7 linked regions of the Homo sapiens genome follow. The protein of the gene in region 2 purifies or fractionates together with the protein of the main gene of each other region. This does not show direct contact. Each region holds a gene or a part of one and is shown on either strand. Other genes may lie near its edges.

Region 1 (4,019 bases), on a different chromosome or scaffold from region 2:
TCTATGCTCCATTAATCAAGGTAATACAGGCTCAGGTTAAACATAAATCTCTCTCCATTTATTTTGTCCTTACTGTAATGGTACTGACATACACAAAGGAAAGAGAAAGTGTTCCAAACTAATAATTATAAGGTGTTTGGATGGATGATGGTAGATGTCAATTTATAAAAAGAACACATATTTGCTATGCGGTTTTATAACTGAAGCAAAAAGTTCCAAATTACAATTTTAAGTGATTAACTCATGTGTCATATATCATTTTTTGAATAGGAAACTGATTTTAAAAAAGACTATTAAATATATTATTATAACCATTTGGATAAATAAACCAAATCTGAAGTTTTATTAAAAAGCATTAATGTGTTTTCTTAAAAATATTTAATACTTAATGTAAGTTAATATAACTAGATTATACTAAAATGCCATAAATCCAAATGTCCTTGGTAAAATGGACAAATTCACTTTATTTTTATAGGTATAACAACATAATACCATTTTATTTAAAAATAGTCCTTAAGACAGAGAATGAATTTGGACTTCAGCTGTGAAATATTTAAATTACTTAAACTTCAGAAAAATAGAAACATTTTTTCAAGACTCACAATCATTACAAGTTTCTAACCAAATGTTCCTTTTGCAATGTTTATGTTGTTGGCAGAATAAACTGAGATAAAAAAATGACCAATCCCAGATTTTCCTATTTCAAGATTTTAATTGTTGTCTTGACTTAAAAGCCTTTTGTGAGATGTATTCAGATTTTTAAAATACTGAAAATTCAGCTAATTCATACCAGGGGAATTCTACATGCATACTTGTTAAACACACTGGCAGTCATAATTAAGTTTGTTATTACATACATACAAGGGGGGGGAAGCACTAAAAAAGGAAAATATTTCTAATTCCTTTTTAATCAATCTTACAATCAACATAAAATTATGGAGTATAAGTTTCTCTCCTTAACACAGACTACACTGAATAAATAAGAGCACTGCAACTTTATCGTTGGCATTTAATGTTAACAAAACCTTTCTAACATACCTGTGCTGGTTTCTGTTTCTTTTTCTTCTGTTTTTTAGAAAGCCTAAGAGCAAATATAAATCGAAATGTCAAATACTTGACTCTGTGAAGAGTAAGTGGAAAAAAAAAAAAGTTGAAACACTAGTGATAAAGTAGTAAAACAGAAGTAAAAGATTAAAAATATTTAATATCTTAAAGCATTAAAAGGAAAATAAAGTATTCACATTGTCATTTTAGAGAATAACACAAGGCTGTAGTTCAATGGATAGTAATTAGCTTATCAACTGCCAGGTATAAAAACTGCTTTTAATATAGTGATAATATGTTCTATAAATATTATAGTTGACGTCTGTATCCACTTCAACACTATAAAGTTCCATTAACTAGAAAATATGGAGACAATCTTTTCTAGTTAGAATAACTTCCTTGGGATAAAACAGCCTTTAAGGCCGGGCGCAGTGGCTCACACCTGTAACCCCAGCACTCTGGGAGGCTGAGGCAGGTGAATTACCTGAGATCAGGAGTTCAAGACCAGCCTAGCCAACATGGTGAAACTCTGTCTCAACTAAAAACACAAAAATTAGCTGGGCGTGGTGGTGTGTGCCTGTAGTCCCAGCTACTTGGGAGGCTGAGGGAGGAGAATCACTTGAACCCACAAGTTGGAGGTTGCAGTGAGCTGAGACTGCGCCACTGCACCCCAGCCTGGGCAACAGAGTGATTCTCCATCTCAAAAAAAACCTTTTAATGCAATCTCTGAATGTGATAAGTATTTCTAGTGACATTTAATATTTAGAAGTACTTTTGTTTTGGTGCATCTTCCATTTCTTCCTCAGAATTGTCATCTAATGGATTTTCATCAATTTGAGGTCTTGAAAAATTTTCTTCTTCCTCCTCCAGCTGTTGTTTTAGCAAGGCCACCATTTCCCGATGCTTCTTTGACTTCTCGTGATTCTTCATGCTGAAAGAGCAATCTGACGTGAGCAGCTGCGCTAAAATTAGTTCACGTGTCCAGATAATGTTGCTGGATAACTGCAACCAAGATAAAATTAGCTTTTTTCCCACTAAGCAAAACGTTTCTGATTCTATTTATTTTTTTCTTTTTTTTTATTTGTTCATGATTTTATACAGAGAAACAGAACGTGTCAGGATTCCTTGGCAGTGAGCATACTGGAAGCTCGTGGCCACACTCTTTCTTTCCGTACCACAGCTTTCCCTGTCTTTCTCTGTCCTTTTATCTACATACATTTTCTTCCTTTCTGGGGATGGGGGAATGTCGGCAGGGGGAGGTTTGGACAAATTCTCTACTTATTATTTTGATTTTTCAATTCTTAAAGCTTCCGCCATTGTTTTCTTTTAATCACTAAGTATTTGCTAAGTGTTTTTACATTCCAGGCCATCCCACAGACTTGGAGGGATCACTGGGAAATTAGAAGACACACATTTTAATGTTAAAAGGAAGAGCCCCCTGGACTAGAGAAATGGTGGTGGGAAGGCTTGAAATACAAGAGCAGTTTACTGCCTCTTGCTTTTTCAACAGCTGCTTTTCACCTTCTCAGGAGAGGTCTCCTTTCTCACTCTCACCACCGTAACGTACATTCAGACACATCTCTATCCCTGTGTTCAAAACCCTGCTGGCAATGTCTGTCTCAGCACACCTACAGGCAACTAAAAAGCATTCAACAAAACAGGGTTGACAACATAAGCTACAAGAGTTATATCAACTAAAAAGCAGGAAACTTTGTCAACTATCTACTTCATCTCATCTGTTCAGGCTTTTGGTATTATAGTTTTAGTTGCTGTTTTTCTTTCCTACTAAAATTCTCCTTGAGACCAAGCTGCCCTGGAGATAATGGAAGATCCTGTGTCTGAAAGTAAGTCCTCCAAAAAAGTTATAAGCACATGTCAAAAGGACACAAGGGTGGTTTGAAGGAATGCTCACTAACCAATTCTGGAAAAATTTGAGCATGAAAAGGTCAGTAATGAATTATAAAACACTGAAAAAAAGAAATAAATTCAAACTGATAATAGATAAATGGATAAAAGGGAAGGCTCCTGTTTACAGCAGAAGGCCAAGTGCTAACTGATAAAAACTTGAGGGGGTACTGGCACTGGAAAAGCATCATTCTGCAACCATCATAAAAAAGACTGACGCAAGCTAAAACCATCAACAGATGCTAAAGCTATGAGGAAAACTTTTATGAGAAGCAAGATATCTGCATAGTTTTAAAGTGTCTCCTCACAGATTAAACATGTTACAAGGGAAAACCTGTTGCAAGGGAAAAAATACTAACTCTATAGTAAAATTAGTAGTATAGTAGTAAAATTAGATGACACCTTGATTGGGTGATGAAAATTATCACGACAAATGAGGGGTAGAAGGACTTTACGTGTCTCCAGCTATGAATCCCTGAGAGCACAACATGCTTGTGCGGCGTCCCTCCTGGGGCTGCATAACCTGAATCTAATCATGAGGAAATGCACAAAGACAAAATGAGAAGAATTCTATGAAAAAAGTGAAAACAGTGTACTTCTAAAATGTAAACAGCATAAAAGACAACACAAGCTGTTCCAGATTATGTTCTTAGACTGCATTCTGTATTGGAGAAAAATTCTATATTAATAAATAATTGATTGGCAAAATTGGAATGCAGGTAGTAAATTAGATAAAAATACCATATCAATGTTAATAATTTCTTTTATTTGGTCACTGTAGCATGGTTACATAAGAGAATAACCTTACTTTTTTTTTTTATTTTGAGACGGAGTTTTGCTCTTATTGCCCAGGCTGGAGTGCAATGGCACGATCTTGGCTCACCACAACCTCCGCCTCCTGAGTTCAAGCGATTCTCCTGCCTCAGCCTCCTGAGTAGCTGGGATTACAGGTATGCGTCACCACGCCCAGCTAATTTTGTAGTTTTAGTAGAGACGGGGTTTCTCCATGTTGGTCAGGCTGGTCTCAAACTCCCAACCTCAGGTGATCTGTCCACCTCAACCTCCCAAAG
Region 2 (4,019 bases):
TGCAATGGCGTGATCTCAGCTCACTGCAACCTCCACCTCCCGGGTTCAACTGATTCTCCTGCCTCATCCTCCCGAGTATCTGGGACTACAGGCATGCGCCACCACGCCCAGCTAATTTTTGTATTTTTAGTAGAGATGGGGTTTCACCATATTGGCCAGGATGGTCTCGATCTCTTGACCTTGTGATTTGCCCACCTCGGCCTCCCAAAGTGTCGTGATTATACACTTGAGCCACCGCTCCCAGACTCCTTGCCTATTTTCTATAAATATTATTTGTAATCTGAAATTGATCTTTTTGTGACTTTACATCTAAGATAGTGTCTCCTGCTAGAACATTAAGTTCTATGAGGACACTAATACAACCCCATTGGCTACAGAGAGTGATGACAGAGAAAGAGAACTAACAAAAGGCTCCTGGAAGGTCCTCAACCTACCCCAGAGATGGTGCACCACGTAGAGCTCTCCTATCTGTGAGAAGAAGCCGCCCACTGCCTCCTGGTTCTCCTGCCGGTACTTGATGGCCCGAGCCCTGGAGAAGGCACAATAATATGGGGCAGAAGCCAGGGCTGGTGCAGAGGGTACTGAGGCTGATTCCTTGGCCACACTTCACAGGAGGGGCCTAGGTGGAACCCACGGTCCTCCGGGATGCTGAGAGAAAGGACTGATGGCGGGGTGTTCTACCAACGGAGGGGTCACAACCTTCTAGGAGATCCTCACCTCCTGGCTGGATCCTTCTCCCAGATCCATGAGGGGCAGAAGGTAAAGAGTTCCCTGTGATATGGCCCTGGAAAAGGTGGCCCACCAGGGGCCTTGGTGGGGCAGGTGAGCAGGGTACGCCTCCCCCAACCCCAGTCTTGGTGCTGCCACTTACCAGTTGTTCCCCCACTCGATCATGGTTCCTGGCTGAAAGAGAACCAAAGGGATGATGGGAATGAGCCCCCACCTCAGATTCATAGCATCACAGCTTGGCAAGGAAGGGAAACTGCCCTGTCTCCCCACCTCCCAAGCTGCAGCGGCCATTTGGCCTCATTCGCAGGCCCTGACACACACCTGGTGTGCATGTTTGCACACATGTGTATACAACTCTGCTCTGAGCCCATAGGGAGGGAGAAGCCAGAAGCCCCAGTCTAGGTGTTGGGGCAGCTGCAAAGCAGCATTGCAGCAGGGAAATTGGGGGGCAGGAGGGGGTCTGTCGGAGGGAGGCACCTTGAGCTTGTATGTCCTCAGCTCATAGATGTTGGGACCCATTCTGGGCTGTGGCTCATTCCAGAAGCTGAACTCGAGGAGCAGCTGGTTTCTCCTGGACAGCAGCATCTGGCTCCGCTCCCTTCGGAACTCCAGGTACTCCTGTGGGCATGGTGGTAAAGGCATGGCTACCAGGAAGTGCGCTCCATCCTGACAGTGTGCCTCATGGGGTAGCAGAGTAGTCCCCAGAACAGGGCTGGGCTGCATCCCACATCCAGAGAGGTGTGCTGAGTGGACACTAACATACCTTATTGTTTTTGAGCTTGTTCATGCAGTCCATGAGGGCTGGGTAGCCACCTGAGAATCGCCACAGGTGCACTGTTGGGGGTGAGAGGTATAGGTCAGTGAGCTGCTGGGACCCCCAGCAGATGACCTCCTCAAGGTTGGCTAAGTGGTGGGGACGGGGGAGGCGGGGTGGCCTGGTTCCCTGTAGCAGCAAGACTCCCTGAGTTCCCTCTGCCTTGGTGGAAGACCATGCTGGGGAGGGGATGACCCTAGACACAAGTCTAGGAGACCTGGATTTGAGCTCCAGCTCTGCCCAGCAGCCTTGGACTGCTCTAGGCCTCAATGTTCTCATCTTGAAAATGGGAATAATGTTCCCACCCCACCTTCCTTAAATAGCAACAAGAAGATCAGATGTGTCCTGTACCCTGGAAGCAGTGGCATGCATAAGGAAGACCACCAGGCCTTAGAGGGGCAGCTGAACAAAAGAACAGGGGAGAACTGATGGGCTGATATGGAACATTCCAAGACAGTGAATTGAAAAAAGGAACCAAGGAACAGAAGAGGATGTGTGGTATGCTACCTCATGTGTTGAGGTGGCAAGGACATCCAGAGATGCTAATTTATGCATCACCTCTTAATGGCGACTTAAGAGATTGACAGTAGACCAGGCGCAGTGGCTCACACCTGTAATCCCAGCATTTTGCGGGGCTGAGGTGGGTGGAGACCAGCCTGACCAACATGGAAAAACCCCATCTCTACTAAAAATACAAAATTAGCCAGGTGTGGTGGCGCATGCCTGTAATCCCAGCTACTTGGGAGGCTGAGGCAGGAGAATCACTTGAACCTGGGAGGCAGAGGTGGCGGTGAGCCAAGATTGTGCCATCGCACTCCAACCTGGGCAACAAGAGCGAAACTCCGTCTCAAAAAAAAAGAGATTGACAGTAGATGCCCCTGGGACACAGAATGGAGGCCTGTGGGGCCTCGGGCAGGAGGGAAGCTTACTTTGCATGGAAAACTCTTTGTACTGTTAGAATTTATAAAAATCCTGGGCCGGGCACGGTGGCTCACGCCTGTAATCCCAGCACTTTGGGAGGCTGAGGAAGGTGGATCACGAGGTCAGGAGATCGAGACCATCCTGGCTAACACAGTGAAACCCCGTCTCTACTAAAAATACAAAAAATTAGCCAGGCGTGGTGGCGGGCACCTATAGTCCCAGCTACTCGGGAGGCTGAAGCAGGAGAATGGCATGAACCCAGGAGGCAGAGCTTGCAGTGAGCCGAGATCATGCCACTGCACTCCAGCCTGGACAACAGAGCGAGACTCCATCTTAAAAAAAAAAAAAAAAAATTAGTTGGGTGTGGTGGCACATGCCTATAATCCCAGTTACTCGGGAGGCTGAGGCAGGAGAATCGCTTGAACCCAGGAGGTAGAGGTTGCAGTGAGTCAAGATTGTGCCAGTGTACTCCAGCCTGGGTGGCAGGGTGAGACTCCGTCTCAAGTAAATAAATAATCAACTTTGGGAGGCTGAGGCAGGTGGATCATCTGAAGTCGGAAATTTGAGACCAGCCTCACCAACTTGGCGAAACCCCATCTCTACTAAAACAAAAATTAGCTGGGCGTGGTGATGCACATCTGTAATCCTAGCTACTCAGGAGGCTGAGGCAAGAGAATCGCTTCAACCTGGGATGCAAAGGTTGTGGTGAGCTGAGATCGCACCACTGCACTCCAGCCTGGGCAAAAGAGCAAGACTCCGTCTCAAAAAATAAATAAATAAAAATAAAAATAAATAAAAATCATATTATCTGCACTGAGTTGAACAATGTCCCCTCAAAATTTATGCCCACCCAGAACCTCAGAATGTGACCTTATTTGGAAATAGGTCTCTGTGGGTATAATCGACCTAAGATGAGATTATACTAGGTGAGCCCTGAGTCCAGTGACTAGTGTCCTTATCAGAAGTGGGAGATCTGGACACAGGAGAACACTATGTGAAGACAGAGACACACAGAGAGAACAGCATGTGACGAGGGAGGCAGAGATTAGAATGACAAGTCTACAAGCCAAGGAACACTAAGAGTTTCCAGCAATCCCCAGAAACTGGAAGAGGCAAGGAAGGGTTCTCCCCTAAGGCCTTAGGAGGAAGGACAGCCCTGTCAACACCTTGATTTGTGACTTCCAGCCTCCAGAACTGTGACAGGATAAACCTCTGTTATTTTAAGCCACCCAGTTTGCGGTATGCTGGCCACCCCAGGAAACTAATCTAATTCCTAGTAACAAAGAAACCTAATTAATTGTGGAGGAGAAGAAAGGAACAGTTTTGCCATCCTGGGAGCATGGCTGGGCCCATCAGCGGAGGAAGGTCCCCAGGGGATCACACAGGCAAGCTAGAGCTAAGGGCAGCTGGCTGCCAGCAGTCTAGAAACTCAGACTCTGTAACTTCCCATCCCCATCCCCAGCCTGACCTTCACCTGTTTTTTGACTCCATCTGTGCCTTGATTTTCCCATCTGCAAAATGGCCTGACCCTATGGTTTAAAGGTCTTTTTCCCAA
Region 3 (4,019 bases), on a different chromosome or scaffold from region 2:
TCATATATTTTGTTTAGTTTTTCAGTCATTCATGGCAGGTGGACCAGCTCCATACAGTTATTCATTTACGGCTAACAGCAGGTGTCACTCATAATCTTTTTAGTGGGTGGCCTCCAAATGTTTTAACCCTACCCAGTCTGTTTTTGATTATGTTTTTGGTGATCATAATTTAGCTTTGATAGATAGGCCTGGATAAAAGTCATAATAAAATCTTAAACCATAAGAGAGAAGACTGGAACATAACCCCTTGGGAGATTGTATCAGTTTTTTTCAGGATTCTTTTTGAAGATTCCTGGGAGTTTTAGCTACAGAGTTTTTTTTTTCTCTTGGTTTTGTTTTGTTTTAAATAAGAGGTATATTTTGTTGTAAAATACAACATGTGCAATTTAAGAAGAATTATAAACATCATTTTTTGAAAGGTTCATGCTCTAAAGCCAAAGTTGGCAAAGTTTTTCTATAAAGGGCCAGATAACAAATATTTTCAACTCTGTAGGCCATGTGGTTTCTGTCACAACCCGCTGTTGTAGTGCAAAACCCACCATAGATGGTACGTAAATGAATGGGCATGGCTGTGGTCTTATAAAACTTTATTTACAAAAATGGGCAGTGGGCCGGATTTGGCTCACAGGTCTTAGTTTGTCAACCCCTGCTTTAGTGCCGCAGATTGTCATTAAGTAATTTTTAAAAGAAAGATGTATTTATTTTTTAATATTTGGATTAATTTTACAGCAAATACTTGATTTTGCATTTACCAAAAAAGTTAATTTAAGAAAAATTTTGAGCAAGTTATATGGGAAAAAAAGTGAACTAAACAACTTAGACAGACACAGAGTCACCAGGAGCCTGGACTTCTTATGAACTCAATATGTATATGAATACATGCGTGTGTGTGTGCATACACACACACACACACACACACACATTTTAACTAATACCAGGAGTCAAAATAACAAAGTAGTCAACATAAACTAACCAAGTGACTATTCTGCATATAATTCAGCTCTAGGTTTTAAAGAGGACATAAACAAGTATTAAGTAGTTCTTCCCTTCATAGAGTTTACCATCTTAGTGGGAAGACAAACACATATTAAAATACTAAAACAATGAGAAAACAGAAAAGATGTTATAAAGCTGCAAATAACTAATATCACCACTGATCTTATCAGAAAAGTCATACGCTCTCAAATTTATAATGGTGAACACAAATTTTTCAAAGTTCTAATTTTTTCTTTAAAACTTTCACTTTGGGCTGAGTGTGGTGGCTCATGTCTGTAATCCCAGCACTTTGGGAGGCTGAGGCAGGTGGATCACGAGGTCAGGAGTTTGAGACCAGCCTGACCAACTTGGTGAAACCCCATCTCTACTAAAAATACAAAAATTAGCCGGGCGTGGTGGTGCGCACCTGTAATCCGAGCTACTCAGGACTCAGGAGGCTGAGGCAGGAGAATAGCTTGAACCTGGGAGGCGGAGGTTGCAGTGAGCAGAGATCAGGCCACTGCACTCCAGCCTGGGCGACAGAGCAAGACTCCATCTCAAAAAAAAAAAACAAACAACTTTCATTTTGGCCGGGTGCTGTGGCTCACACTTGTAATCCTAGCACTTTAGGAAGCCGAGGCTGGAGGATCACCTGAGTTCAGGAGTTGGAGACCAGCCTGGCTAACATGACGAAAACCTGTCTCTACTAAAAATACAAAAATTACCTGAGCGTGGTGGTGGGCGCCTATAATCCCGGCTACTCGGGAGGCTGAGGCAGGAGAATCGCTTGAACCCTGGGGGCGGAGGTTGCAGTGAGCCGAGATCACGCCACTGCACTCCAGCCTAAGTGAAAGGGCAAAATTCTGTCTCAAAAAAAAAACAACAAAAAAAAACTTTCATTTTACCATTAGCAACAAATGCTGTTAGTTGTTGTCTTTGAAATTACAGTTGCACAGGCTCACTTTCTTCATTTTTGAGAAAATGTCTTTCAGATACCCAAACCTGAATAACCATAGTTTGTCTGTGAATTGTTCTATATTGTACTGTTTTATCAAGGACATTCTTTTTTTTTTTTTTTTTTGAGATGGAGTCTTGCTCTGTCCCAGGCTATAGTGCAGTGGCACGATCTTGGCTCACTGCAACCTCCGCCTCTTGGGTTCAAGCTATTCTCCTGCCTCAGCCTCCTGAGTCCTGAGTAGCTCGGATTACAGGTGCACACCACCATGCCCGGCTAATTTTTGTATCTTTAGTGGAGACGGGGTTTCACCATGTTGTCCAGGGTGGTCTTGAACTCCTGACCTCGTGATCCACCCTCCTCGACCTCCCAAAGTGCTGGGATTACAGGCATGAGCCACCAGGCCTGGCCTATCAAGGACATTCTTAAATGAAACTAGCATTTGTTTTACTATGAGTGCTTGGTAGAGAGGAATACAATGATCTATTAGAGTGCAACAGTTTGGTGCCACTGCTCTGATTTTTGCTAAGGCACCAGCAGTTTTTTCCACAATTGCTTTTGCACCATTAGTACAAACATTCAACATTTGTACTAATGGTGCAAATGTTAAAAAAGAAAAAGAAAAACAAACAAACCCAGACAAATAGCATCTTAAAATTATGATGTAAATAAGCTAGGCCTGGTGGCTGACACCCATAATCCCAGCACTTTGGGAGGCCAACCTGGGCAGATTGCTTGAGCTCAGGAGTTTGATACTAGCCTGCAGCAACATGGCAAACCCTGTCTCTACAAAACATACAAAAATTAGCCAGGCATGGTGGTGCACACCTGTAGTCCCAGCTACTCAGAAGGCTGAGATGGGAGGACAGCTTAAGCTCAGGTGGCAGAGGTTGCAATGAGCTGAGATCACACGACTGTACTCCAGCCTGGGCAACAGGGCCAGAGCCTGTCTCAAAAAAAAAATAAAAAAAATTATGATGAAAATAGTTTCGACCCATGGATCCCCTGAAAGGGCCCAGAAGAAATTACGATGAAAATAGTTTTGACCCACGGACCCCCTGAAATGGCTCAGAAGACCACACTGAGAACAAACTGAGTTTGATTGCTTATGAATAGGAGGTAGATGACATGAGAAGTCCTCTGCAGAGAGAAAGCCAAGGGCAATCACTCCCACTGGGGTAATTCAGCAAGAACTTGTTAGGGGAGCAGTGTTAATGTGATACCAGACTGAGGTGCTGTCCAAGGACCCAGAGAGTAGGAAAACACCGGTTGTTTAAGGAAATTGGAGGGTAGATCAGCCTGTAACAGTAGATGAAAGACTTGTAGAAGGCTGATACTAAGGCAGCCAGTATCAGCACTTAAGTGCACGCTTGCTATTGGGTCCAGTCCTAACTCTGTCATAAGTTCTGTAACTTTGAGTAAGGTACCTAACTTCTTTCAGCTTCTAATTTCTTATCTGTGAAATAGGATTAAAATGCCTGCTTCATAAGATTGTTGGGACTAATGAGATAATATATGCTAAGTGCTCTCAGCCACAATGTTAATTCAATAGCTATCATATATGACAACCAGCAATTAGTAAAATTTGAGGGTCAGAACTTAGAAGAAGGGCCTGTGATGTGAAGAGGGTAAGAAAGATGGATGAGTTTGGAAGTCTGTGTAAGACTGAGTCCAGCTAAGTCACTAATTCATCAGATATGTTGCCAAAACTACAAAGATAAATAAAGGTTTCTTCCTTTGAGTTGTTTACAGTCTAGGTAGGAAATAAGACATATACTTGTTATTCAATCATTAAGTGAACATTGATGGCCTATAATGTGATGCTTTGCCAAGGAGTTTGAACCTTATCATTGGAAGGTTTAAAGTAGAGGAAAAAATATGGTAAGATCCAGTTTTAGAAAGATAACTGTCCACAGCAGTACTGAGGAAGGAAAGACTTCAGGTGGCCAAAGAGGAGATTATGTCAGTAGCTCAAGTGAAAAAGAAAATAACTTTGACTAAGGTATTGTAACTAAGGTAAAAAGGATTTGATTTGTGTGCTATGTATCTTATACCCTCATTGTAATACAGGCATAATAGTGTAATAGAT
Region 4 (4,019 bases), on a different chromosome or scaffold from region 2:
GCACTCTCCACTTCCTAAGCCCCTACCGGCCAAATTATCCTTAAAAGCTCTGATCCTCGAATGTTCGGGGAGACTGATTTGAGTAATAATAAAACTCTGGTCTCCTGCACAGCTGGCTCTGCATAAATTACTCTTTCTCCTTTGCAATTCCCCTGTCTTGATAATTGGCTCTATCTAGACAGCAGGCAAGGTGAACCTGTTGGGTGGTTACAGGACCACAAGTGCATGCCACCATGCCTGGTTCTGGTTTATTGATCTTTGAGGGAGGAATTAACAGGAAGCCAGAAAAGTGTCATCAATTATAAATAAGTCATTTAAATGAAATGGCAACTGCATGCAGCAGCAGCAGCAGCAGCAGAATCCCTCCCTTTACATCTTTCCATATGATAACAAATCCTAGAAGACTATTACCATGCTAGAGGTATCCCTTTCAGGGTGAGACAAATTCCCACCTCTATAGACAATTCCTGGTCCTATGAGGTCCCTGCACAAACAATGTGTGAGGGCTGAAGAAAAAGTGGCAGTCAGCGGGGGTAAAATGTAAAATAAGCAGAATTGCACCTAAGCTATTATGGACACCTCTTCCCACTTCTCCTTCTCTATCCCCCTTCTCCCCGACACCCCAGATCTTTAGTTAATGGCAAAACAAACATCTCCATTCTTTATTCCTCTTGCTTCCATGGGCATAAAGGATTTGTGATGTATTCTAGGCTTATAAGAATGAGGATGAGAGAAAAAAGAATGAAGATGGAAGAGAAAAGAAAAAAAATCTCAATGTGAGGATATAGCAGTATAGATTAAAAGCACTAATAGAGTTACTAAATGTAACTAAACCAGTATTTTAAAGCAATCAAGTTTGTGGTGTTGGACAATGAGATGATTTAACAAATCTTTAAATTTAATGATAGCCCCTCTGGTGGGACCTCATACTTTAGGCTCTAAACTTCTTGGGAATCTATGAATTATAGCTACATACACTAAGTATCCTCCTGAGAGACAAAGCTGTAATATGCTCTAACTTGCATTTTTTTTTTTTTTTAAGAGACAGGGTGTGGCCGGGCGTGGTGGCTCATGTCCGTAATCCCAGCATTTTGGAAGGCTGAGGTAGGCAGATCACTTGAGCTCACGGGTTTCAGACCAGCCTGGGCAACATGTCAAAACCCCGTCTCTACTAAAAATACAAAAATTAGCCCAGTGCGGTGATACTCCTGTAGTCCCAGCTACTCAGGACGCTGAGGCAGGAGAATCGCTTCAATCCGGGAGGCAGAGGTTGCAGTGAGGTGAGATCGTGCCACTGCCCTCCAGTCTGGGTGACAGAGGGGAAAAAAAAAGACAGTCTCACTCTGTTGCCCAGTCTAGAGTGCAGTGGCACCATCATAACTCACTGCAGCCTCAAACTCCTGGGCTCAAGCAATCCTCCCACCTTGGCCTCCCAAAGTATTGGGATTACAGGGAACTACCATATCCGGCTATATGCATTCTTTTACAGTGTACTTCTTTAGAGTAAGGACTACTTGACATATTTATGGGCCATAATTAAAGGCCAAAATTTCTGAAACAATTCATCCTTATAGTGATTAATTTGGAACACTTGTTAAAGATGTCCCTCAAGCTTTAGTAAATCATTTTCTTGCAAAATCTGGCATGAATTTTGGGGCTCAGCCACTGAAATGGTCTTTGATCTGCTTTTTGGCTGGGGAGCTATTTCAGCAGAATAGAAGGATGGAGAAGAGCTGCACTCTGACCCCTAAGGCCAGCGCTGCTTCACTCACATAAAGCCAGCTGCAAAGGTGTCGGATAGCAAGGGCGCTCCGCCTCCATATGCAGAGCTTGTTTCTCCTAACCAGACCTTCTTGCCAGGCCTGGTGCTCTCAACCACCTATAGAACAGAAAAGTATCCATGGTAATTGCAAAAAAGCTGACCTGTGGTTTCAACTGTGGTGTTGAAGATTAACAGCATTCAAAACTTTGTATTCCTAGACCCACCCCTCCTATATAGTTATAAAATATGTTCATAGTCATTTAGGTCTTGGGAAACTTTCTTTTATTGAAATAGTAGGCTGTGGAAGGAACATGAAGTGAACCAACCCATTCTTATCATCTATGTGAGTTAATTCTACTAAAGGCTATTGGAAATATTTCAAATTTCTAATCACGTACATGGGGTAAGACCCAATGCTAAGGGGAAAACTAACAGTGGATAAGTCATAGTGCTTGTTCTCTAAAATTAGAAAAACATGTAAATATACATACCTATAGAATTTAGAACTAGCTAGACTATAAAATAAGGATTCTGGTTTTACATTAAAAAGTTTAAAAAGACTATTACCTGGAAAACTTTTTGCACAGATGAAATAAAAATGTCCAATACATCAGGGTTTAGAAAATCTTCCTTGGTAGCAGTCCGTCCATTCAAATAGTAGCTAAATTACACAGAAAATATTCAGAAAAAAAATAACAAATTTTACTTTCTGCTTTTAGGTTAATTGCTGACCTTATTCTCCTTCTTACCTCTCCCACTCACCTGTTACTAAAAAAAGGTAGAAGTTCTACTAGGGAAAGACCAAGATGGAAGGGAGTTATGAGGAGGAGTCCATTCTATGCAAGTAACTAGAAATCAGTTACTCTGTCTTGAAAAAACACAGTGGCAAGTACATGTACTCCTGGGTTACTGGTTCTTTGGCAAGCAATTGGTTTTAGCTACTTATATGTTCCATGGGTTAATTGGCACTGTTCTTCTGTATAAAGTGATCTTTATAGAAACCACTACATTATTTAAAATAACTTTAAATTTTTTTTATTAATATTAAAATTGGAGTACAGTGCTACTTGAGACACTATTTGTTTCTTATTTGAACTGCAGTCAATTGGCAGTTAAATGAACTAACTTTTTGAATACTAGGTAATAAATAAAGCTAGCCTTACTTTCCTAGTATTAAGAATAGGAGACATACTTACTGATGCCATGTAACTGAATCAATCACTTCTCCACCAGCCTTCAGGAAGCTAGAAAAAAAATTTTATTATCACTCAGTCATATAATACATATATATGCACAATATACGCATGAGAGTTTTATTCCCTAGAAATGGGCTGGTTACTGCTTTAGGATCAGGTAAACACAAACTTCCTAATTTTGATAGCAAATTTTATCATAGGTGACATTTGCCTCAGATCCCTTGATATTCTGAACCCGTCAAAATTTCCTTTTTTTGGTAAATCATGTATTCAGGCAGCAGATTGTTTAATAACATGTGGACTATTGAGGATTGTCTACCAGAGAGAATCTTTTTTTTTTTTAAGAAAAGTGGTGGCTGGGTGTGGTGGCTCATGCCTGTAATCCTGGCACTCTGGGAGGCTGAGGTGGAAGGATGGCTTGAGCACAGGAATTCAAGAGACCAGCCTGGGCAACACAGGGAGACCCCATCTCTACAAAAAAATTTTTTTAAAGTAGCCAGGTGTGGTGATGTGCACCTGTAGTCCCAGCTATTTGTGGGACTGAGATGGGAGGATTGCTTGAGCCTGGGAGGTCGAAGTTGCAGTGAGCCATGATTGTACCACTGCACTCCAGTCTGGCTGACAGAGTGAGACTCTGTCTCAAAAGGAAAAAGAAGAAAAGTAAAGTGATTCTGCATCCTCTAGTTCCTACCTCTTCAGCATCTTAGCCGTCTTTCTTCGAGGCTGACCAACATCAGGACCATAGAGTTTTGCATTTTTGAAGGTGGACTTTCTTAGAAGTTTATGCAATTGAATAAAATCTTCTCCTAACTGCGACCCATTGATGAAAATATCAGCCTTCTTAAGGAAACTGTTAGGTTCTGAAAGACAGCAATTCTCAAAATATATATCGAGAAATGTTGTATTTAAAAGCAAACATATAGCAGTATTTAAAAGCAACAAAACATTTTCCAAATTACAAAAACTTGTAATTCAAAGTCAAGAAAAGTAAAACCAGGTCTGGCGCTATGGCTCATGCCTGTAATCCCAGCATTTTGGTAGGCTGAGACAGGAGGATCCCC
Region 5 (4,019 bases), on a different chromosome or scaffold from region 2:
CGTCAGCTTCCTGAGTAGCTGGGATTACAGGCGCCTGCCACCTCGCCAGGCTAATTTTTTGTATTTTTAGTAGAGGCGGGGTTTCACCATGTTGGCCAGGCTGGTCTCGAACGCCTGACCTCAAGAGATCTGCCTGCCTCGGCCTCCCAAAGTGCTGGGATTACAGGCCTGAGCCACTGCGCCCAGACCAAAAGTTTTTTTAAATGGATGTTTTACAGATAGAACTAAATTCTTCATTTACCTCACTTAATTTCTGAAAACACTGTGTCCTCCAACTGCTCTGTATTCCCAAAGATTAAAATTAGCCTTGGGGAGCAGAGCTGGTTCCTCGTAAACCCCTGTGAGTGCCCAGACCCTTTGGAGGAGGTTCTCAGTGGGCTTTTGCCTGCTCCCACAGATGTAACCCACCCTTCCTGCTGCTCCTAAGACCACCATGAGGAAGGCTGGGAATTGGCTCTTGAATTAATTTGTTGGTATTTTTAAGAATAGCTATTAAAGTACTGTTGTTAATTTTCCCAAGTCTATTTTATTGTTAGTATTTGTCACATTTTCTTTGTAAACAGTGAATTAAAAATATTTTATAGGAATATTCATTCTTATCTAGATTTCCTACTTATATAAAAAAACAAGTGAATGAGATTGTTACAAAGGGTAATTTTGTGTGAGTAGAATAATAAAAGTTGAAATTGAGAAGATGCAATGTTTTAGACTGAAACTGATGGTTGGTTTGTTTTCCCCTTCTTTCTAACAGGCCTTATTCCACTGCTGGGGATTGATGTGTGGGAGCACGCTTACTACCTTCAGTATAAAAATGTCAGGCCTGATTATCTAAAAGCTATTTGGAATGTAATCAACTGGGAGAATGTAACTGAAAGATACATGGCTTGCAAAAAGTAAACCACGATCGTTATGCTGAGTATGTTAAGCTCTTTATGACTGTTTTTGTAGTGGTATAGAGTACTGCAGAATACAGTAAGCTGCTCTATTGTAGCATTTCTTGATGTTGCTTAGTCACTTATTTCATAAACAACTTAATGTTCTGAATAATTTCTTACTAAACATTTTGTTATTGGGCAAGTGATTGAAAATAGTAAATGCTTTGTGTGATTGAATCTGATTGGACATTTTCTTCAGAGAGCTAAATTACAATTGTCATTTATAAAACCATCAAAAATATTCCATCCATATACTTTGGGGACTTGTAGGGATGCCTTTCTAGTCCTATTCTATTGCAGTTATAGAAAATCTAGTCTTTTGCCCCAGTTACTTAAAAATAAAATATTAACACTTTCCCAAGGGAAACACTCGGCTTTCTATAGAAAATTGCACTTTTTGTCGAGTAATCCTCTGCAGTGATACTTCTGGTAGATGTCACCCAGTGGTTTTTGTTAGGTCAAATGTTCCTGTATAGTTTTTGCAAATAGAGCTGTATACTGTTTAAATGTAGCAGGTGAACTGAACTGGGGTTTGCTCACCTGCACAGTAAAGGCAAACTTCAACAGCAAAACTGCAAAAAGGTGGTTTTTGCAGTAGGAGAAAGGAGGATGTTTATTTGCAGGGCGCCAAGCAAGGAGAATTGGGCAGCTCATGCTTGAGACCCAATCTCCATGATGACCTACAAGCTAGAGTATTTAAAGGCAGTGGTAAATTTCAGGAAAGCAGAAGTTAAAGGCAAAATTGTAAATCAGTCGAGATCGGGTGCCTTCAGGGTGGTATGGCTGTATACCAAAATTGTAAATCACTACATGAAGCTTATATATTGGTTTGGCCTGAAAGGTGAAGTGGGGTAGGCAGGGGGCGGGCTTACAGGTTATGGTGGATTCAAAGACTCCCTGATTTGTGATTGGTTAAGGAAGCAAAGCTTTGTCTAAAAACTTGGGGTCCGCAGAAAGGAACATTAAGGTCTGGCCAGGCCCCTCAGGAAGAAACTGAGAGCAAAGAATGGAGGTCAGAGTTTAGTCCCTGGTGTTCCCCCTTATCTGACGTCTGTGTGAATCCATTTGGTGGGGGTCTGGGTTTCTGAAAAGTAGCTCAGGGGCACGTGTTAAGGATGTCTCTAGGTGACTCTAACTTCCCTGGCTATTGTTTGAAACTGTTATGACCTTCTTGCTTATCAGCTTGCTGGTTTCCTTCTCGGGGCGAGCTGGGTGCCTGGAGTTTTCGGTGAAGGAAACTCAAGATTCTCCTTTATTTCTGTGCTTGTGGGAATCCCCCTGGCACACCCCAAAGAGGGGTCCCTGCTCCGTCTCACAGGGATCTTTTTGTATATTTGGCTTAGCATCATACATTTGCCATGTTGTTTCATCATCTGCCTAATTTACTGTTTTTGAATATTTCATTTGTTTCTAATTGTTACTACAGATAATGCTGGGGTGAGCAACTCTGTGTACATAGGTTTATCTCCTATTGGAATATTTTCTTTATATAGGCGTTTTTTTTTTTTCTTTTTTTTTGGAGACAGAGTCTTGCTCTGTTGCCCAGGCTGGAGTGCAGTGGCGCGACCGGAGCTCACTGCAACCTCCACTTCCCGGGTTCAAGTGATTGTCCCACCTCAGCCTCCTGAATAGCTGGGATTACAGGTGCATGCTACCATGCCTGGCTACTTTTTGTATTTTTAGCAGAGACAGGGTTTCACCATGTTGGCCAGGGTGGTCTCGAACTCCTGACCTCAAGTGATCCGTCTGGCTCAGCCTCCCAAAGTGCTGGGATTACAGGTGTGAGCCACTGCACCTGGCCTATATAGGCTTTTTTCTTAAACCTATTTAGTAATGTTTTCCCAAGTTTATTTTTTATTTTTAATTTTTTCCCCAAGTTTATTTTTCTATTTTTTTTTCATGGAAAAATGGGGTAACTTAGCAGTTTCAATATTGAAGACTGAAGTTTAAAAAAAATTTAAATTCAAGGTACTTTTAAAATTCAGTTAGAAAAGTAGGCTTTAAAAATTATTAGAGACAAGAGTACCAAAGCGGTGTGTGTATGTGTGTGTGTGTATGCATGCTTGTGGATTGGAAAAACTTTGGAGACTGATTACTTTTCATTATATATGTGTCACAGTGAAACAGCTTTTATGTGTCATGTAAGATTACTGCTTGCCTCTCTAAGGAAGGTCGTGACTGTTTAAATAGACGGGCAAGGTGGAACCTTTTGAAAGATGAGCTTTTGAATATAAGTTGTCTGCTAGATCATGGTTTGTATTGAACTAACAAGGTTTGCAGATCTGCTGACTTATATAAAGCTTTTTGATTCCTACTAAGCTTTAAGATTTAAAAAATGTTCAATGTTGAAATTTCTGTGGGGCTCTATTTTTGCTTTGGCTTTCTGGTGAGAGAGTGAGGAAGCATTCTTTCCTTCACTAAGTTTGTCTTTCTTGTCTTCTGGATAGATTGATTTTAAGAGACTAAGGGAATTTACAAACTAAAGATTTTAGTCATCTGGTGGAAAAGGAGACTTTAAGATTGTTTAGGGCTGGGCGGGGTGACTCACATCTGTAATCCCAGCACTTTGGGAGGCCAAGGCAGGCAGAACACTTGAAGGAGTTCAAGACCAGCGTGGCCAACGTGGTGAAACCCTGTCTCTACTAAAAATACAAAAATTGTTTAGCTCTGTTTTTCATAATAGAAATAGAAAAGGTAAAATTGCTTTTCTTCTGAAAAGAACAAGTATTGTTCATCCAAGAAGGGTTTTTGTGACTGAATCAGCAGTGCCTGCCCTAGTCATAGCTGTGCTTCAAAAACCTCAGCATGATTAGTGTTGGAGCAAAACAAGGAAGCAAAGCAAATACTGTTTTTGAAATTCTATCTGTTGCTTGAACTATTTTGTAATAATTAAACTTTGATGTTGAGAAATCACAACTTTATTGTACACTTCATTGCAACTTGAAATTCATGGTCTTAAAGTGAGATTTGAATTTCTATTGAGCGCCTTTAAAAAAGTAATACCAAACCATAAAGTTAAAATCTATGTATATTGAGTCATATCTAAAACCACGTATAAACATAAATTGTATTTCCTGTTTTAAT
Region 6 (4,019 bases), on a different chromosome or scaffold from region 2:
AGTGAGCCGAGATTGCGCCACTGCAGTCCGCAGTCCGGCCTGGGCGACAGAGCGAGACTCCGTCTCAAAAAAAAAAAAAAAAAAAAAAAGAAAAAAAAATACAAAATTAGCCGGGCATGGTGGCGGGTGCCTGTGACCCCAGCTCCTCAGGAGGCTGAGGCCGGAGAATCACTTGAACCCAGGAGGCGGAGGTTGCAGTGAGCCAAGATCATACCACTGCACTCCAGCGTGGTGACAGAGCGAGACTCCATCCAAAAAAAAAAAGCCAAGCATGGTGGCTCACACCTATAATCCCAGAGCTTTGGGAGGCTGAGGCAGGTGGATCAACTGCGGCCAGGAGTTTGAGACCAGCCTGGCCAACACAGTGAAACCTTGTCTCTACTAAAGAAAAACAAATACAAAAAAATAGCTGGGCATGGTGGCGTGCACCTATAATCCCAGCTACTCAGAAGACTGAGGCATGAGAATCACTTGAACCCAGGAGGCGGAGGTTGCAGTGAGCCAAGATCATGCCATTGCACTCCAGCCTGGGCAACAGAGCAAAAGTCTGTCTCAAAAAAAAAAAAAAAAAAAAAAAAACAGATGCGGTGGCTCATGCCTGTAATCCCAGCACTTTGGGAGGCCGAGGCGGGTGGATCACTTGAGGTCAGGAGTTTGAGACGAGCCTGGCCAATATGGTGAAACCCTGTCTCTACTAAAAGATACAAAAGTTAGCCAGGCGTGATGGCACGCACCTGTAGTCCCAGCTACTCGGGAGGCTGAGGCAGGAGAATCGCTTGAACCCAGGAGGCAGAGGTTGCAGTGAGCAGAGACTGTGCCACTGCACTCCAGCCTGGGTGACAGAGCGAGACTCCATCTCAAAAAACAACAAAAAAAAAGTGACACAGGTAGGAGATTCAGTACTTTCGGAGGCCAAGGCAGGCGGATCATCTGAGGTCAGAAGTTTGAGACCAGCCTGGCCAACATGGCAAAACCCCATCTCTACTAAAAATACAAAAATTAGCCAGGCATGGTGATGCATACCTGTAATGCCAGCTACTGGGGAGACTGAGGCACAATCGCTTGAACCCAGGAGGCAGAGGTCGCAGTGAGCCAAGATGGCACCACTGTACTCCAGTCTGGGCAACAATGCAAGACTCTGTCTCCAAAAAAAAAAAAAGAAAAAGAAAAAATTAGTCGGGCGTGGTGGCGCATACCTGCGGTCCCAGCTACTTGGGAGGCTAAGGTTGGAGGATCGCTTGAGCCCAGGAGGTCAAGGCTACGGTAAGCTATGATCACACCACTGCACTCCACCCTGGGTAACAGAGCAAGACTCTATCTCTAAAACAAAATAATAATTTATAAACTAAAAATAAATAAAACAGGCTGGGGGCAGTGACTCACGCCTGTAATGCCCAGCACTTTGGAAGGCTGAGATGGGCGGATCACCTGAGGTCAGGAGTTCGAGACCAGCCTGACCAACTTGGAGAAACCCTGTCTCTACTAAAAACACAAAATTAGCCAAGCATGGTGGCACATGTCTGTAATCCCAGCTACTCTGGAGGCTGAGCCAGGAGAATCACTTGAACTTGGGAGGCGGAGGTTGCGGTGAGCTGAGATCGTGCCATTGGACTCCAGCCTGGGCAACAAGAGTGAAACTCCGTTTCAAAAATAAATAAATAAATAAAACAATTCTAAAGAATCCAAAATATAACAGATACTCATAAACCACTTACAGGCACGTAAACTCTCTACCTACCTAAAAAGTCACTCAAGTACTGAGTATCAAGACCGTGAGGATGTTGGAACCCCAGTTTCTGTCTGTTCCTCACTCATTCACTCATCCATCAAACACCTACTACGTGCCAGAGCCCAGGCTGGCTAGGTACCGGGGACACTGGAATCGGTAAGGCACAGTTAGGTCCCTCGATGACTTCAAATTGAAGGTTTGATATTTGTCTATTCCCAAGACCATCTGTTCTCAGGAAATGACTGAAAGTATCACGAAGGTGCGATGCACACAAAGACTGAAAGCAACGTTCCGAACACAAAACATCGGAGAAGGAACAAACGAAAATGCCCATCAAGGGAGTGGAAAACTGAACCATGGTACATGCTCGCAACAGAACATTCAAGACCATTTTAAAAAATGATACTTATAAAGACTTAGCAATAGCAAAGGGAAAGGGCCCACACTGTAATGTACGGGAAACGGCAGAGAGACCCAAGATCCTACCCGCACCTGGGCTCTGCCCAGGACCTACCTTTGACGTTACTCAGCGACAGAGAGCGCTCCTGGTCTACCAGCCCAGGCCCCAGCCGGCCACTGCCGCCACTGTCCTTCTGCCGGGCCACAGCCACTGCAATGCCCACAGGCGGGTGTCGCACTTCTGCCTCACCCTGGGCACCAGAGCCCTCGCGCCCGAAAGCTTTGGCGCTCTCGGGCCTCTCGGGGTCCCGCTTCAGCTGCCGGCCGCCGCCCGCTGCAGGGCCTCCGGAGTGTGGGAGACGGGCCTGGGCTCGGGAGGCACCCGCAGAGGTGGGCGCAGGCTCGGGTTTCATGGTGCCCAAACCTCCAAAGGGGCTCTTCTTGCCACAGCCACCAGGGCGCACGGCCACGGCGTCCCGGGCAAAGCTGCCACTGTACTTTATAAGGCTCTGCATGGCCGAGGCCTCTCCAGACCCGTGGGCCGCAGAGTGCATGTCAGCGACCGGCCGGCCGCAGGTGGCCGCCGAGCGGGGCAGCACAGCCCCAGGGTCCAGGTAGGCCTTCTTGGAGGAGGAGGCAGCGACCACGGCGGCCTCCTCTTCGGCGCGGCTGTGGTGGTGCTGCGCGGCCAGCACGGCCATCTGCGTGGCGGCGAAGTTGCCCAGCTCGAAGGGTTTCCATTTATGCTCAGGGCCGGTGGGCGGGGGGCGCCCGGGCTCCAGGCCGAAGAGCTTGGCGGCCTGTTGGGCTGCAGGACCGGCTGGGCCGCGGGGCGCACGCTCGCAGGGCCTCGGGTCCGCCTCGGGCTTGAGCAGCTCCTTGGCAGGCACGTAGGCGCGGGGGTCCGGGGAGGCGCGTGTGGCCCGCACCGTGGGGGCATCCGCGGGGGGCGGCCGCTTGAGCGAGCGGATGACCGAGTTCTTCTCGCGCAGGCCCTCGGGCCGGTCCAGAGGCCGCGGGGAGCCGGGGGGCGCCTGCAGGACCCCTGGCCTGCCAGCCTCGCGCTCGCGGGCCCGGGCATCGCGCGCCTGGGATGCGATCTGGATGGGCCCCGGGCGCTCGTCGAAGGCCTCCACGGAAGGCACGAAGGTGGGCGCCACCACGCGGTGCTCACGGCCCTGCTCGCGGAAGACGGTGTAGACGCCGGCGGGGGTGGCCGCGGGGGGTGCAGGAGGCCCCTTGGGGGGCGCGGGCGGCGGGGGCAGCGGTGAGGGGCAGGGGCGCGGCCCAGGGAGCAGGGTCTCCGTGCGCCGCAGCAGCCGCGCGCCCTCGTCCTGCCGGGCAGCCTCCTTGGCACCCCCGCGCCCCGCTTCGGCCACCAGCGCGGGCAGCCCCACGTCCCCGGCGCCGCCGTTGCACATGGTCAGTACCGACGGCTGCAGCGCCGCATTCTTGGTCTTGGACTCAGCCAGGAAGGGCGACAGGCGCTCAGCCAGGCGCGGGGGCCCCCGGTCCTGGCGGCCCTCGGCGCGCGCCTCCTGGGTCAGGTCCACCACGCCCCGTGGCCCCGAGGCCTCCTCGCCCCGGGCGCGCGGGTCCTTCTTGCCGAAAAGCGGAGGCGGCTCCCCGCCGCGGCCCGCCCGCTCCTTGGCTGGACCGTCCCGCGACGACGAGCCTTTGGCCGGGGCGCCCGAGGAGTGGCCGCCGCCAGGGGTCCGGGCCGAGGGCGCGTGAGAGTGCAGGGAGCCCGGAGCCCCCGCGGTGGGCAGGTAGAAACCGTCTGCGGAGAAGGGAACAGCAGGCAGTGAGCGAGCGCCACCTCCCCTCCCACCCCTGCCTGGGCGGAGGCGGACCCCTGAGAGGGGGATGGACCAACCCATGCCTCCCCCAG
Region 7 (4,734 bases), about 13 Mb from region 2:
AATTAGCTGGGCGTGGTGGTGCGCACCTGTAGTCCCAGCTACTCAGGAGGCTGAGGTGGGAGAATTGCTTGAACCCGGGAGGCGGAGGTTACAGTGGGCCGAGATAGTGCCACTGCACTCCAGCCTGGCAACAGAGAGAGACTCTGTCTCAAAAAAACAAACAAAAAAGTGTTTACTTGTGTGATAGGCCTGATGGTAACATACAAGAAAATTACTACCAAACTGTCTCCGAAGTCAATAATTATAAGCACTCTGCCCCTATGCTGGGATCCTTTTGGAAACTGTTCAAAGAGACTGAATCAAAAAGTGATCTAGCCCAGGCGCAGTGGTTCACACCTGTAATCCCAGCACTTTGGGAAGTCAAGGCAGGCGGATCACCTGAGGTCAGGAGTTCAAGACCAGCCTGGCTAACATGGCGAAATGTTGTCTCTACTTAAAATACAAAAATTAGCCGGGTGTGGTAGTGTATGCCTCTAATCCCAGCTACTCGGGAGGCTGACGCAGGAGAATCACCTGAAACTGGGAGGTAGAGGCTGCAGTGAGCTGAGATCGTGCCACTGCACTCCAGCCTGGACAACAGAACAACACTGTGTCAAAATAAATAAGTAAATAAAAGGGGATTTAATTTTAAAAATTAAATAATATATAAAAATAAAAAGTGATCTGAGAAAGACATATTGTAACATATTGGGCTCATATCCGGCCCAGCAGCACAGTTCTAGAAATTTAAGACAAATTCTGAGGTTGGTATAGAAATACTTACCAGTCAAAAGCACAGCCTAAGGCCTTCACACACCATAAAATCAGTGAAACTAATTGCGGTTCTTCAGCATCTGCGGAGCACTGGCTACCAGTAAGGAGAAAGTTGGGGATGCAGATAATCAGTGCACCCTGAGGTGACAGTTAATTCCACTAGCATACCATTTCACAGGAGATGTTATGGCATTCTACTTCATCCCCCTACTCTGAGAATGCTGAAACTGGCTGGAAATTTCAACAGTTAGCCAAATGTCAAATGTCCTTTGAAGAACTTTAATAAAATCTGGATCCTCCAAAATCCCCTGCGTAGAAAGATCTTGGAACTCCTCTGAGCCAACATACACAGACCCAATCACATGTTATCCACACATTTTCCAAGTAGACAAATATTCTCTGAAACATTTTCTGATAACTTCTTTCACAAAGACAAAAAATATGTTAAGGTGCATTCCACCTAGGTCAGAATAATACACTTTCTGATCTGAAGCACAGAACAGCAAGTGGGATTTCAAAAAAGAGCGTACCCTGACCAACTTTTATGCTCTGTTGAAGGCAGAGGCTGGAAGCTTAAAGACAGGCTTTTAAAAGCCAGCTAAGGTACAGTCTGCATTTCTCAGAAAAGTTGCCTATGGCTAAAACAGAGCACAAAATGAGAGATAAAAAAGCAAAACCACAAACCCCTGTACCGTCTGACCCGGGAGTCCTCACTTAACAGATGAGAAAATTACCAGGGAAAGTAACTTGCCCTGGGCTGCAGTTTATTTGGCGTCAAAGCTGTAAGCAGATTCCTGGTCTCCCAGGTCGGAATTCAGTGTAGCTTCCCCATCCACCTAACTGCCACCCCACGGAAGATGCTGTATAAAACTCTTCACTCTTCACTGAGGCTGTTAACATAAGGGTCCAATTATCATTCAAAGATCAGCCTGTTAGATAATAGCTCGAAAATTCCATCCATTTTACAGCAGTTACCAGAGACATCTAATCTTCGAGGAAAAAAAAGCAAAAAGGAAAAGGGGGAAATCCTAATTTTGACCTGACCCCTAAGGTCAAACTAAAGGATTGAATACAGACCAGCAGACCGTATTGGTATCCGCAACCACAAAAACAGACAATAATCCCACCCACAAGCAGAGGAAGACGGCCGCTCCTCGGCACCGCCCCCCAACTCACTAAATTCCACTCCCATTCCGGCGTCCAGAGGACAGTGCACCTCCCGCCGTAGCCTGAGAGGGATCGGCCCGATTGGCCACGCTCCTTCAAACCACCACTTTCCCCCGAAAAAGGGACGAAAGCCTCAGGTCCCCAAACGAGCGCTCCCTCGCCCAGAGACCCCGGCTTGCACACCCCGCCCTGTTCCCCGCGGCGCGGGAGGAGAGGCCGCCCCACACAGGAAGTGTGTCCTGCGCCGGGACCTTGCGCCCAACCCGCCGGTACCTGCCCTCCGCCCCCAACAGGCGAGAAGCAGCCGCGTCCACATGGCTTCAGGTGTTCACATGGCAGTAAACGGGCCCCTGCTCTCCTGGGCGCCCCAGCGCGGCGCCCTCCCGCCCACATCCCGGCCCAGCCCCGCTGGCCTCGCCTCCAGCCCGTAGCCAAGAGGCGAGCGCGGCCGGTGCCCCCGGGGCTGCCAGGGGCCCCGAAGCAGGCGGCGCTGACTCCCGGACGCCGCCCGCTCACACCCGCCGCCTTTGCACCCAAGGCCTCGCGCGACCAGCAGGTAGACCTTCCCTCCGCACCCTCGGGCCAGCACCGGCACCCAAGCCCCGCCGGAACCCCGGGCCGGCCCAAGACACCTTAGCCCTCTGATGCCAGGCCTGGCCCGGGCCCCTGCCCGCACTCTTGGGTCGGGCCGGGCAGCAACACTCCCCTCAGCACCCCAAGCCCTGACTCGGAGTCCAGGAGGCTCCGCACTCCCAGGTTGGGTCCGGCCGGGACCTCTGCTCCCAGCCCCCGAGGCCGGACACCCCGGCCCGGCCCCAGTCCTTCAGGCCCAACCCTCTCCCTGCCCCTCAGGCCCGGGAGGCGGTTACCTGCAGGAGCCCCCCGCCCAGTCCCTCGGCCTCCGCCGGGGGCGGGCGGGGAGGGAGCGGTGGCGACGGCGGGCGGCGCTGCGCGGGGTGGGGGTGGGGGTGGCTCCGCCGCCTCCAGCTCGGGCGCCCGGGCCGGCGGCGGGGCGGGCCGGGGCCGCGGCCCCTCGAGGCTCGCTCCGGCCCGCGCGCTCGCTCCCCGGTCAGGCGCGCCTCAGGGCGGGCTCCCCTGGCGGAGGCCGCGGCCGCCTCGCAGGGGCCGAAAGCGGCTGGGCTCGGGGTTTTTTCTCTCCATTCTCCCAACACACAGGAAATAACAGAGCGTCAGGTGACGGCGCGCGGCCAATGGGGAGGCTCCGGGCCGCGGCGCGCGGGCGGGCGGGAGGGCGCGCGGCGGGGCGGGGCGCGCGGCGGGGGCGGGGCGCTGGGGGCGGGGCCGGGCGCGCGCGTGCCCACCCGCGTGCGGCGGCGTCGAGGCTGGCGCGCGCCGGGTAGGGATCGCGAAGACCCCCACCTCGCGGCAGGGTCGCACGGGGTTCTCCTCTGCGGCCGCTGGGCGCCGCGCGCCACCCGCCCAGTGCCATCTTGGCCTGCGCCTCAGGGCCGTCTTGGGGGTGGACGCGAGCCAACTTTCTGGGGGAGTTGGTGGCCCGGAATCTCTCTGGGATTTCTGGAGTTCCCTGGAGCCTCCAACTCCAGAATCGCGCCTCTTGCGGCCCGGGAGGTCCGCGGGCGAGGACCCGGTCTCCTCTCGGTGACCTGTTTAGTGGGGTCGGGCGTGGGGGCGGCTCCTGCCCGCCAAGAGCCCTCTGGGCCGGGGGCAGCCCAAGACCTAGCTGGTCCCGCCTGGGTCCCTGGCAGCCCCCGCCCATGGGTTCCAGGTGTCCGTGGAGGAACGACTTGGGTCCTCTCAGAGCCTCAGTTTCCACCGCGGAAAACGCGAGGAGGGAGGCCCACCTACCTCACCTGTAAAACGGACGCTCCAGCTGCCTTCTGCTGCGGCATTAAGAAGCTGCAATGCCAGGCTGACTGCGCCCAGGGTCCCGAATTAATTTGCCGATAAGGCGGAGGATTTGCGGTGCCAAGGCCTCAGCTTGTTCCCAGCCTTCCTTTGCAAACCTGATGTTTCTAAAGCAAAGGAAGGGCTTGACTTCTTTATAAAGAAAATCGCAATTGTAGAGCAACTAATATGTAGATGTTGGTGCCCCCACGGCCATCAAAAGTGACAAGGCCAGCAAGAGTAGGATGCGTTGAGAATTTGTGATCCTGCCCCTGACCTTTGACCTGGCCAAATTCTCCTCCCACTTTGGGCCTCAGTTTCCTGTGGGTGAGGAGAGTTTGGATTAGATGTCCCTAATGTTGGCTAAAATTGCCGATTCTAAATTAGGCTCCCATCTGTCCTAGATGTTAGGGGAGTATGTGGCTTCCTCTCCTGAAGCAACCCAACTTAAAAGTTGGGATTGGAAAAGTGCTTCCGGCAGCAGGTGGGGATTGTCAGGAACCAGGTGTGGTCTGGAACCCAGATTTCCATATATTTGAGGTACACAGCTTCCCGGGGCCTGCTTTTACTTTTTGACCTTTCACCCCACCTAGCCATTGCCTTTTCTCAGGCTACCCAAGGAGGGTCTCAGGGTCCCAGGCAGAGCCCCAGGTGGTCCTGGGCCCCTTGGCAGGAGCATGTACTTGGGGAAGGCAGTGATTTCTCCTGGCTTCTGTCCAATCTCACAAAGTGGGGGCTGGCTCCAAAGCAGGTCAGGACTATTCCTGGGGACTTGATTCCCCAACACCTCCTGCATGCCAGGCTCTTCCGGGGCAGAGCTGAACAAGCCACGGGGCCCTGCCCTCTGATTATTCCCATTGTTCTTCTGAGTTTCATTTTCAAATTCTCAGGCCTCAAGACTTTTAAAAGACCAGTACCTGGCTTCTCCTGGGATCAGGGCTGTAAAGG

What was found.
Region 1: the proteins of NIPSNAP1 (region 2) and DNAJC21 purify together in Homo sapiens (affinity purification with mass spectrometry; one large-scale study listed by BioGRID and IntAct). This does not show direct contact.
Region 3: the proteins of NIPSNAP1 (region 2) and NSMCE2 purify together in Homo sapiens (affinity purification with mass spectrometry; one large-scale study listed by BioGRID and IntAct). This does not show direct contact.
Region 4: the proteins of NIPSNAP1 (region 2) and HPSE purify together in Homo sapiens (affinity purification with mass spectrometry; one large-scale study listed by BioGRID and IntAct). This does not show direct contact.
Region 5: the proteins of NIPSNAP1 (region 2) and SOD2 purify together in Homo sapiens (affinity purification with western blotting; one study listed by BioGRID). This does not show direct contact.
Region 6: the proteins of NIPSNAP1 (region 2) and TNRC18 purify together in Homo sapiens (affinity purification with mass spectrometry; one large-scale study listed by BioGRID and IntAct). This does not show direct contact.
Region 7: the proteins of NIPSNAP1 (region 2) and TCF20 purify together in Homo sapiens (affinity purification with mass spectrometry; one large-scale study listed by BioGRID and IntAct). This does not show direct contact.

What each region holds. Positions count from the first base shown.
Region 1 is NC_000005.10:34,942,823-34,946,841, reverse strand, and holds part of DNAJC21 (dnaJ homolog subfamily C member 21), read right to left. Parts: intron 1,976-4,019; coding exon 1,817-1,975; intron 1,121-1,816; coding exon of another isoform or gene 1,082-1,120; coding exon 1,039-1,081; intron 1-1,038. UniProt on the Homo sapiens protein: May act as a co-chaperone for HSP70. May play a role in ribosomal RNA (rRNA) biogenesis, possibly in the maturation of the 60S subunit. Binds the precursor 45S rRNA.
Region 2 is NC_000022.11:29,560,300-29,564,318, forward strand, and holds part of NIPSNAP1 (protein NipSnap homolog 1), read right to left. Parts: intron 1,564-4,019; coding exon 1,493-1,563; intron 1,348-1,492; coding exon 1,207-1,347; intron 904-1,206; coding exon 872-903; intron 530-871; coding exon 435-529; intron 1-434.
Region 3 is NC_000008.11:125,105,151-125,109,169, forward strand, and holds part of NSMCE2 (E3 SUMO-protein ligase NSE2), read left to right. Parts: intron 1-4,019. UniProt on the Homo sapiens protein: E3 SUMO-protein ligase component of the SMC5-SMC6 complex, a complex involved in DNA double-strand break repair by homologous recombination. Is not be required for the stability of the complex.
Region 4 is NC_000004.12:83,307,073-83,311,091, forward strand, and holds part of HPSE (heparanase isoform 1 preproprotein), read right to left. Parts: intron 3,819-4,019; coding exon 3,650-3,818; intron 3,007-3,649; coding exon 2,959-3,006; intron 2,424-2,958; coding exon 2,330-2,423; intron 1,880-2,329; coding exon 1,773-1,879; intron 1-1,772. UniProt on the Homo sapiens protein: Endoglycosidase that cleaves heparan sulfate proteoglycans (HSPGs) into heparan sulfate side chains and core proteoglycans. Participates in extracellular matrix (ECM) degradation and remodeling.
Region 5 is NC_000006.12:159,679,371-159,683,389, reverse strand, and holds part of SOD2 (superoxide dismutase [Mn], mitochondrial isoform A precursor), read left to right. Parts: intron 1-751; coding exon 752-897; 3' UTR 898-4,019. UniProt on the Homo sapiens protein: Destroys superoxide anion radicals which are normally produced within the cells and which are toxic to biological systems.
Region 6 is NC_000007.14:5,385,429-5,389,447, forward strand, and holds part of TNRC18 (trinucleotide repeat-containing gene 18 protein), read right to left. Parts: intron 3,909-4,019; coding exon 2,244-3,908; intron 1-2,243.
Region 7 is NC_000022.11:42,267,550-42,272,283, forward strand, and holds the start of TCF20 (transcription factor 20), read right to left. Parts: upstream 3,105-4,734; 5' UTR 2,790-3,104; exon of another isoform or gene 764-2,789; intron 1-763. UniProt on the Homo sapiens protein: Transcriptional activator that binds to the regulatory region of MMP3 and thereby controls stromelysin expression. It stimulates the activity of various transcriptional activators such as JUN, SP1, PAX6 and ETS1, suggesting a function as a coactivator.